Regions from separate parts of the Homo sapiens genome. Here region 2 is linked to region 1. The links come from fine-mapping of genetic effects on gene expression. A gene starts in region 1. The other region holds a variant in brackets. All regions are shown on one strand. Distances are between the middles of the regions. Region 1 holds the start of PPP2R5A (protein phosphatase 2 regulatory subunit B'alpha). Region 2 overlaps LINC02608 (long intergenic non-protein coding RNA 2608).

What was found. PIP is the estimated chance that this variant, and not a neighbour inherited with it, causes the effect. A credible set is the group of variants that fine-mapping cannot tell apart.
Region 2: its variant is the best candidate, but not a certain one, in a credible set for the expression of PPP2R5A in whole blood (Lepik 2017, PIP 0.79).

The regions. Positions count from the first base shown.
Region 1 is chr1:212,282,543-212,287,915 of GRCh38, forward strand. PPP2R5A (protein phosphatase 2 regulatory subunit B'alpha) reads left to right here and starts at 2,868. Exons shown (of 13, transcript NM_006243.4): 1 at 2,868-3,749. The coding sequence starts at 3,569. It overlaps LINC02608 (long intergenic non-protein coding RNA 2608), which reads right to left and starts at 2,479. Exons shown (of 4, transcript NR_125984.1): 1 at 2,437-2,479. RefSeq lists an enhancer at 2,381-2,460 and a silencer at 2,631-3,600.
Region 2 is chr1:212,253,111-212,258,483 of GRCh38, forward strand. All of the region lies in intron 1 of LINC02608 (long intergenic non-protein coding RNA 2608), which reads right to left. Among named protein-coding and RNA genes, the nearest start is that of LINC02608, 29 kb to the right of the region's middle. RefSeq lists enhancers at 3,067-3,568, 3,182-3,361. The variant G/A (reference allele first, on the strand shown) is at 2,742.

The DNA of each region.
Region 1 (5,373 bases):
CAGGCTGGAGTGCAGTGGCGCAATCTTGGCTCACTGCAACCTCCGCCTCCCGGGTTCAAGCGATTCTTCTGCCTCAGCCTCCTGAGTAGCTGGGACTACAGGCTCGTACCACCACACCTGGCTAATTTTTTATTTTTAGTAGAGACAGGGTTTCACCATGTTGGCCAGGCTGGTCTCAAACTCCTGACCTCGTGATCACCCACCTCGGCCTCCCAAAGTGCTGGGATTACAGACGTGAGCCACTGCGCCCGGCCTGTACTGATTTTCTTTCTGCTATTTGTCTCCCTTTCTTATTTTATGTAAATTATTATAAATAGTACTACTCCTGACTTACAGACATTTACATTCTGTTTTTAATAACTTCTAGATGACTAGAGAATAGTAGTTCCAAACTTTTGTGTACATAAGAATAACCTAGGGAAGTTATTAAAAATAGACTTCTCAGTGCTCTTCCCATAGGTTCTAGTTCTGTTGGGGGGAGGCGGGGGAGGTCCAGGAATCTGCATTTTCAATAAGCACCCCAGAGGATGCTGATGCAGGTGATCCAGTAACCACGCTTTCAGAAATTCTGCTGTTGAGAACTAAAAATGTGATTGTTATCCTCTGCTCAGTAGGGGAAACAGAGGTGTAAAATAAAATAACTGAGTTCTTGCTCTCTTGGTGTTGACAAACTTTCAGCTGTGAGTGGTGTGGACACTAAATGCAATAGGAATACAAAGAAGGGAGGCATCACTTCTGGCTGGATTGTCAAGCTTCATAAAAGATAGGGGGTTTGAAGAAAAGAAATTTCAAAAAGATGAAAAAAAAATGGGCCGGGCGCGGTGGCTCACGCCTGTAATCCCAGCGCTTTGGGAGGCGGAGGTGGCCGAATCACGAGGTCAGGAGTTCGAGACAAGCCTGGGCAACATGGTGAAACCCCGTCGCTACTAAAAATACAAAAAATTAGCCGGGCGTGGTGGCAGGTGCCTGTAATCCCAGCTACTCGGGAGGCTGAGGCAGGAGAATCGCTTGAACCCGGGAGGCGGAGCATGCAGTGAGCCGAGATTGTGCCACCATTGCACTCCAGCCTGGGTGACAGAGCAAGACTCCGTCTCAAAAAAGAAAAAAAAAAGTGGATTATTTCAAGATGTTGGAACAGCAAAGACTAAGTGTTGAGGATGCATAACTTCTTTTAGGGGATCAGTATGTGGAATGATGTGCCTGAACTAAAAAGAGTTTTTGTGGGCACATGTAGGAATTTACACTTGGAAAGACAGGAGTCAGATCGCAGAGAGTCTTGAATTTGGACTCTATTCTGCAGGTATTGGGTGGTTCCTCAAACACGCAGGTAAGATAAAAGTGATCTTAAAAGATTGATGTGGCAGTGAGTTTGAAAGCCGTGAACTACGTTTGGCGGTCTTTGTACACATTGGGAGAAACGCCAATTGTGAAAGTAGATTTAACATGATCTGGAGCTTGACTATGTGAGAAAGCGAAAAGTGTCAGAAACGCTGCTGAGGTTTGAACCTCCTTGACTGGGAGGATTATGTACAATTTCACCGCCCAGCAAATCTGAAGGAGGAAATGTTTTGAGGATAGTATGTTTGGTTCTAGGTCTAGAATTCAACTTCCTGCCAAATTTGGAATCTTCTGTACATATGCATCAGGTGGCTTCGTTTAAATATACGACAATTACTTTTATTATGTTGAAAGGAAAAGGTCTGGAGCTCGAGGGAGGGGATTACAGATTTGGGTCCATTGGCGCAAAGGGAGGCTGACTGTTCAGATTAATAATTATTAACGGCCACCGTATGGAAAGCACTGCACGAAAAACTAAGATGACCAGTCCTCGTCCTTAAGAAATTCAAAATCTAGACGGAATCTCCAAGAAAGAGATTCCGGTAAGAGTACATGGCAAGCCTCCATATCCACACACCACTGACCAATGAATTTGTACTCTTCTCGTTGGAGTAGTTGAGGGCCTTTGGCTCAAGGAGGGGTGAAAATTAGCAGGATACTAAATTGGGAATGAGAAATCTCTTTTTAGAGGGCGTGGACTTGCAGAACTCTTTGAAGCAGCAGATGCTAGACTGCCCAAACCCCACGCGAGAGTAGCTCTCTGGAGTTGCGGAGTCCGAACCTCCCAAGAGCTACAAATTTATTCCGCAACTACCAATTTTGCGGTTTGGGGCCAGTAAGGCGCCAAGACCCGCCCAGGTGTCCAGACCTCGCAACGATTGGACGAGCTCACCTTCTCGCCTTCCCCGGGCCCCTCGCCCGTCAATCACACTGCTTGCTCGCCACCTGACCTCTGCTGCGCCCCCTTTCAGTGGTGTAACACCTGGCGCTCTTTCGCGCCCCAGCCCTCCGGCGCCCCACCAATCGCTTCAGTTCTTCATTGGCCAGCAGAGAGGTGAGGGAAGGGAAGGGGCGCTCTATTTTGCTCTCTGAACGCACCCTCTCAAGTTTCCCAGTCTTCTCGTAGACGGTCAGGAGAGCAATGACAGCCTGGAGCAGTCGCGCGTGAGCGCAAAAATGCCCGCTGGTGGAGGAGCGCTTCCCCTCCCTCCCAAGCGATTTGCCGCATTTGTTCTGACGCAGGGGCACCCCGCTCGCCGTCTTCACTTACGATTGGCTGTGGCCGAAGCCCGTCACACAGCCCGCCCCACTCCTCTGCCTCAAGAGGCCGCACCTCACGCCGTCGCTGCCGCTTAGCCGTGTGATTGGCTAAGAGGGCTGGCATGCTTTCCCGCCCCCTCCCCCGCCGCCGCACCAAGAGGCGGGCGGGACCCCGCGGAAGTTGTCAGTCAAACTCCTCCTTCCCACCCCTTGCGAGGCCCCTCCCCGGGCCGCGCGCCCTGGCGCGCGCACACGCGCACACACTCCCCAGTCGCCTGTACCAACCACCTTCTCAAGTTGTAGCGGTCGCTCGCCTGGGGTTCTCCGTGGGCGGCCGACGGGCGCGTGGGGGAGGGGGTTCGGGCCGCCCAGCGCGGCAAGGAGCGAGTGTGTGCACGCAGAGGGCCGGGGCTACGGGGCAGCGCCCCGGGCGATGAGGGGCCGGCGTTGACCGGGAAGAGCGGGCACCGCGGCAGTGGCTCCGAGGGGACCCGCGATGGCAGCGCCCTGAGAGGAGGCTCCAGGCAGGGCGGGCTGCGCTGGCAGCGGCCGCTGAGGTGCTGGCCGGCCGGCTGGCTGGCGACGGGGGCAGAAGCGACGAGAGGCGCGCTCGGCACCCGCACCCCCGTGCCCCCGCCTCAGTTGTCTAAACTTCGGGCTCTCTTCCACCCGCTCTGCGCGCCCAGAGTCAACAACTTCTTCACCCCCCTCCGCCCCCGCCCTTCCCTCCGTCAGCCCCGGGAGCTCGCCGCGCGCCGGGGACCAGGAACCTCCAGCGCTGAGATGTGGCCGTGAGGCGTTGGCGGGCGGCGAGGAGAAGCTCGGCGGCGTCCCGGGGCCGGAGGGCCGTGGGGCCGGGGCGCAGGGGCGCGAGCACCCCGCGCCTCTCCCCCGCCTCCTCCTGCCGTCTCCGCCGCTGCCCGTGCCTTGCAAGCAGCAGCCGGAGCTGCCAAGCGTCAGGGCCGCGGAGATGTCGTCGTCGTCGCCGCCGGCGGGGGCTGCCAGCGCCGCCATCTCGGCCTCGGAGAAAGTGGACGGCTTCACCCGGAAATCGGTCCGCAAGGCGCAGAGGCAGAAGCGCTCCCAGGGCTCGTCGCAGTTTCGCAGCCAGGGCAGCCAGGCAGAGCTGCACCCGCTGCCCCAGCTCAAAGGTAACCTCCGAGGGCGCAGCCCCAGCAGCGAGCGCAGGGGCTGGCAACGCTTGCCTCTGCGCCAGCAGAGCCATTTCCTGCTGGGTTTCTCCTGCTCAGTTGGGACTGGTAGTGTGTGAGCCGAGTTCCCCACAATGCCTTGGCGTCACCTCACGCCCTCCTCCTTATTCAAACAGGTTTTCTGTGAAGTCTTGGCTGTTTCCTTCTAATTCCCACCTGAACTCTTTCCATCCTAGGGGAGGCCAACACCCTTCCCCACCTGCGCGCTTGCTTAACCTGCACTTCCTATCTTGCGTCCCGTGAAGTAGAGTCCTTCACTCCTCTTCCAGGTTTGCCCTTTCCCGGTCTTGCTTTAACAACCGCACGAACCTTCCCCGACCTTCACTTTCCCGAGTGTCAGCTCCTCTGTTCGGCCACTTTTAGCTAGTCCTTTACTTTTACAGTTATAAAGCCGTCTGCACCCACCTTCTTCTCAACTTCACTTCCCATTGATTGCCCCTAAGAGTCATCAGACCAGGAATCCGAATGCAAACAACGGTTAAGAGTTAGCTGGCCTTTGGATGTATTTATAAAGAAAAAGCCTAAAATTTGACCAGTGTAGTATCTTATTCACAGGATCGTTAGCTTTAAATGGTATCCTTTAGCTCAAGGAATAGATTTAAAATATTCTGTTGTCTGAGCCGATACACATGGTCTATTTGGAAATACGAAGGAGTAGGTAGTGTTGCTTTGCAGTCGAATGGGAACTTAGTTTGCCAGGCAGTGATTCCAGGGACTTTGTAGGTTTGTACAGGAATTCAAATTGGTATCCGTGCCTAATGCCTTGCAGGAGAACTTGGCACTCTTTTTGGCTCACTTTTCCCACTAGGTTTAGAGGATTTTCGATGTTATTTCCTGGTGTTCTAGTTTATTCTTTGTGTATTACTCATGCTTAATTTTATAATTTTAATGTCCTTGCTTTTTATGAGATAGAAATGTTGGAACAAGATGATAATGCTCCTACATATTTAGATAAAATTTGCAACCTGACGGAAATCCCTATCATCTGATGTTCAGATTTTTCAATTCATTTGAAAAAGCTGCAGCATCCCCTTCAAGGCCAGTCTGGTTCTCATTTGTCTTTGGGCCTGTGAATCCAGCCTTAGTTTGGCAAGGAGTCTAAAGAAAACCCCAGATCAAATCACAGTTGACCTACAACAGCTCCAGAACCCTATTGAGACCCTACCTTGCCCTGACTCTTGGAGTGCTTCTAAATCATGACATCTCACAGTTAGAATCAAACTGGCTTTTGAACAGAGATTTTGAGATATTAGTCTGTGCTATCGAATTTATCATTTGATTGCTCTTTAGCATATAAAAATTGTTAAAATTTACATAGCAAAATGGTAGACTATAATGATAGGCATTGCCAAGACTTTAATTCTTGAATGATGTCATAGCTATAAAAGAATATCGTCTTTGCTATTCATAGATTTTAAAATTTACACTTATTTAAAATATCATAGTTTTTTTATACTACTGATTTTTTTTCTCCCATTAAATTGTCAAACTGTAGTTTGAAGGTTTGGTGCTAGGGTTATTTCATAGTTATTTAATTTGCTTTTTAGTAAGATATTCTAGTTTC
Region 2 (5,373 bases), 29 kb before region 1:
TCCAGCCTCAGTAACAGAATCAGACTCTGTCTCAAAAAAAAAAAAAAAAAAAAGATCAAGACAAGGTATTAGGATTGTAATGAGTAGGCTATAAATGATACCACAGGGCAGATCCAGAATGTAGGACATTCTACAGGCCTATTAACTTGAGGGGAAAAGTAGAGGAGAGACTACTCTAGCTTAAAAGGAGTTAAAGGGCTGGGTGTGGTGGTTCACACCTGTAATCCCAGCACTTTGGGAGACTGAGGCAGGAGGACTGCTTGAGGACAAGACTTAGAGGCCAGCCTGGGCAACATAGCAAAATCCTGGGACAGACACGGTGGCTCAGGCCTGTAATCCCAGCACTTTGGGAGGCCGAGGCAGGTGGATCACTTCAGGTCAGAAGTTCAAGACCAGCCTGGCCAACATAGAGAAACCCTGTTTCTACTAAAAATATAAAAATTAGCTGGGCTAGGTGGTGTGCACCTGTAATCCCAGCCACTCTGGAGGCTGAGGCAGGAGAATTGCTTGAGCCTGGGAGGCGGAGGCTGCAGTGAGCCGAGATCACGCCACTGCACTCCAGCCTGGGTGACAGAACGAAATCATCTCAAAAAAAAAAAAAACAAAAAAAACCATATCTACAAAAAATACAAAAATTAGCCAGGCATGGTGGTGCATGTCTGTAGTCCAGCTACTCAGGAGGCTGAGGTGGGAGGATCGCTTGAGCCTGGGAGGTTCAGGTTGCAGTGAGCAGTGATTGTGCCACTGCACTCCAGCCTGGGTGACAGAACGAAATCATCTCAAAAAAAAAAAAAAAAAAGATTGAAAAGAGACCTCACAGACATAACCAAGTACAATCCTCCCAAAGTGCTGAGATTACAGGTGTGAGCCACCATGCCCGGGATTACAGGCGCCTGCCACCATACCCGGCTAATTTTTGTATTTTTAGTAGAGACAGGGTTTTGCCATGTTGGCCAGGCTGGTCTGGAGCTCCTGACCTCAGGTGATCTGCCTGCCTTGGCTTCCCAAAGTGCTGGGATTACAGGCATGAGCCACCGCACCTGGTTCTGAAAATGAACTTTTAAAAAGAACAATTTGGGAAACTTCAATATAGACTGTAGATAAGAAGGAATTATCAATTTTTGGCATTGTGGTGATAGAAGAAAATACCCTTTCTAAGATGCATGCTAAAGTATTTGGGAGTAAGTTGACATAACACCTATAATTTGCTTTAAAATGCTTCAGCAGGCTGGGCGCGGTGGCTCACGCCTGTAATCTCAGCATTTTGGGAGGCCGAGGCGGGTGGATCACAAGGTCAGGCAAGTTCAAGACCAGCCTGGCCAACATGGTGAAACCCCATCTCTACTAAAAATACAAAAATCAGCTGGGCATGGTGGCACATTCCTGTAATCCCAGCTACTCGGGAGGCTGAGGCAGGAGAATTGCTTGAACTGGGACCCAGGAGGCAGAGGTTGCAGTGAGCCAAGATCGTGCCACTGCACTCCAGCCTGGGGTACAGTGAGACTCTGTCTCAAAAAAAGAGAAAGAAAAAAAACTTCAGCCAAAAAGCAAAAAGGTGGGGAGGTAAAGGGAGGATAGATTAAATACGTATGGCAAACTTGATGGCTATTGAAACTGGTTGATGGGGTCATAGGGGTTTTTATGTAAGTCTGAAAATTTTTATAATAAAAGTGGTTTGTTTGTTTTTTATTTTTTTTTTAACACACTTGCACATCATCTGTAGCTTGTCTGTTTTTTAATGAATGGCGTAGACACTGATGGTGGAGTTCAGACGAGGGTGTAGTAGCAAAGACTAGAACCACTACAGAAAGATTTGCGGGGGAGATGGAAGTGTGCATTTCCTTCCTCCCTTCCTCCCTCCCTCCCTCTCTCCCTTCCTGTGTTACCATCTCCCATACCAGGTAGGGTGCGGTATTAAAACAGCATGGCAGGAGTGTGGGTATCTTTTGGGGAGGTGGGAGATTGCCTGGGGAAGTTGGTGGCCAGAATGGAGAGGAATGTGGGGAATGCCAGGCTGGGCACCCGGCTGGACCTTGTACTGAAGCCAGTGATGAGGCTTCTGTGCAAAGAGAGTGATGCAACCTGTGTTCCAGGCAGATTAATGTGGATAATGCTGGCGTGAGTCCGAGAGGTCTGGTAAGGGGCTGTTACCCAGGTCCAGGCATGAGGAAGGGATAAAAGCTTGCATTGTACAGAAGTGACAGTGACAAGAGACATTTCAGATGAATCAAGAATCAGCAGAATCTGCTGGTGACCATTTATGAAGCTAGTATGGGTGAGGCAAAGTAGTACTTGAACAATGGGATAAATGGCTGTCCTGTTTAATGGAAATAAGGAAACTGAGATGATTTGGGAGATGAGGATTAGGGGTTGATTTTGAACGTGCAAAATGGGTGGAAACAGAACAACCAAGCTGAGATATTTCAAACAACAGATTGTTCCAAACAATAGGCTATTTCAGGGGTGAGATGAGGAGACTCAGAATCAAATAGATCCACTGGGATGAAATCGTTCACCCCGGCCCCTTTCCCATATAAAACCTGATTGAAGTTTGAGGATGAAGGTCTGAAAATGAATCTGGGAAAGTGAGTGGTCTAGCCAAGATGGAACTATGGGGGAGGGTGAGGAGACAAGTTGGTGTCTCCACAGGTGCTGAAGAAACCTCGCTTTTGACATCCTGCTCTCCTGTGACTTTGCTTCCTGTTGTGATAGGAGAACCTGCCCAGTGTTCCATGGGGCAT[G/A]GCTCTAGAGTCATTCTGTTTACACCGAGCTGCCTCTCGGTTGGATAACTGTGTGGCTGAAGAACGACACGGAGCATTAAGCTAGGCCCCCGAGAGTGGGGACCAGCTCTATTTCCCCTGTCCCAAGTACACAGGATATAACGTGCCCTCCCTGGAGATGTCCACAGGGTGCTGCTGACCTCCCAGGTCCCTGCCTCACAGAACAGGGGGATTCTCTTCCTGTCATGACTATTTAGTTACTGGGCTAACAAACAAGAAAAAGTCACATGGGGCAGGATTTCAAGAGCAGAGTTACTTCAGTTGCCTGTGGAAATAACACCAGGTTGTGCAAGAAGACTTTTAGGCTGAAAAAGGCATGTTAAATCTTGGTCTGATGGTCTGACCATCTGAAAAACACAGCCCGTTTTTTCTTTTTTGGAGCTGCAGATAGGACAATGATGAGACCGTACCTCTCTCATGCCCCACAAAAGACACAAAAAGAGAGAGGCCTGAGTTTTGTGATACCCGAGAAGATTTGCATTGGTTTATCTGAGTCCTCATTTTCAGCAAATGACAGCAAGAGGCCAATAAGACACAAAGGGATTTTTTTTTTCTTTTTTTGCTCAACTGCCTTCCTTCCTGCTAAAAATCTCTCAAGCTCTGCCCATCCCTCTTCTTTACCCCACCCTGTCCCTACCACAAACCCACTTCCTCCTCAAAGTCCCAGCCCTCCCACTAGCACACTCTTTCTCCCCTGCCCCTTCTGCTCCCCTCCCATGGCTGCTAGCTCAGGGGTCATGCCCAGGCAGCCTGATGCAGGCCAGGATTCTCACTTCACTCAGCAGCCCCCAACAAAGCTGGCACTGTCTAACTGGGTCACCTTGGGAGAAGGCAGGCAGGAGTGACTGGGGTTGTGTCCTGAGAGCACGGCCAACATGGCCCTGTCTTGTTGTAATCACTTTCAATATGGCTTCTTATTATCACTATTTACAATATTATGAATGTATGAAGAAGAGCTACCACCAAGTGAGTACCTACTGTCTTCCAAGCATAGTGCTCCACACATTACATGCCTTTTCTCCTTTAATCACCCCGCAAACACATGAAGTAGCAGCTATCACAATACCCTTTTTAAACATGAGGAAATAAGGTTTAGAGAGGTTAAGCAACTTGCCCAAGACCAGGTAGCACCAAGCGGCAGCACTGGGATGCAGATTCAGATGTGCCTAGTTCCCAGCCCCCTCCTCTTAACCATCTTGACATAGGCTTGAGTGGCATTTATCTTGACTTATTCCCACCTAATGAAGTAGGAAGACCATTCAAACAGGAAGCCATCTGGGGTGAGGGGAAGCTGGTCACTGGGGATCTGGGGTCAGACTGCCCAGAAACCATGGGGATCTAGAAATGGTCATCTGCAGAGTAGCCTGCTCTTTCTCAAGGGAGTTGTGGCCAAGCTCTATCTTTGCCAGGCCTCTGGGCTAATATCCTAGTTGGTTTAGTGGTAATAGGGCCAAGGTCACGAATCTGATTCCTTTGTGGGCCAGTGAACTTCCATCCACTCCAGTGTCACAGGCAGCACTCCTAACTTTGACCAACGGTTCTCAACTTCAGACCATTGGATGAGAATAAAAATGGTTTAGGCCGGGCGTGGTGGCTCATGCCTGCAATCCCAGCCTTTGGGAGGCTGAGATAGGGGGAATGCATGAGCCCAGGAGTTTGAGACCAGCCTGGGCAACATAGTGAGACTCCATCTCTGCAAAAAATACTTTTAAAAACAATTAGCTGGGGATGGTGGTGTGCACCTATAGTCCCAGCTACTCAGGAGACCGAGGTAGGAAGATCACTTGCGCCTAGGAGGTCGAGGCTGCAGTGAGCCAAGATTGTGCCACTGCACTCCAGCCTGGGTGACAGAACAAGACCCTGTCTCAAAACAACAACAACAAAAAAATGGTTTAACACAACTCTTTAATTTTTTTAAATAAATAACCCATAAAAGCATGTACTCTGCAGATGGATGGGCAAGAGTTACAACCCTTATATAAAAACTGTTTTCTATTTGCAATAGAAGAGACCTGGTATCTCAGTGAATCCCAATCCCTGAAAGGACAAGCTCCAAATTTACTCCTTCTCTCCCAAAAGGTATTACTGGGAAATGGTAGAAGTGTTCCAATCCAGTTGAGATATCACATTTTAATTGTTTTGAGCTGGTTGAGGTCACGACACACAACGTTCTCATCAGGTGTCTCTGAGACAAAAGCAAAATCTTAATGTTCAGTAACTCAGCACAGATCCAGTACAGGACACAGAACACTGTGGAAATGAATACTATGAGGAAAAGCTATACAAACTGGCCTCTTGTAGAGATGGCTGCAGACTGTAGGGATTGTGAATGATCCCAAACAGGCTCTGGGCCAATGAAGGAGGCAACCTCCACTGTGTACACAGCACTGCAGTGGGCTTGGTGGAGAGCCATGGCCGTCTGTGAACTTTGGCCTGAACTTTGGAGGAGACAGAGCACACATGCATGCATGCAAAAACAGACAGAAACATGCAACCAAAACATTGTGTACGTAATGGTGGGAGGGCAGAGAGACAAAGCGAAAAGAACCAAGTGGATTTAAACAAGAAACAAATATCTGGCTGGGCGCGGTGG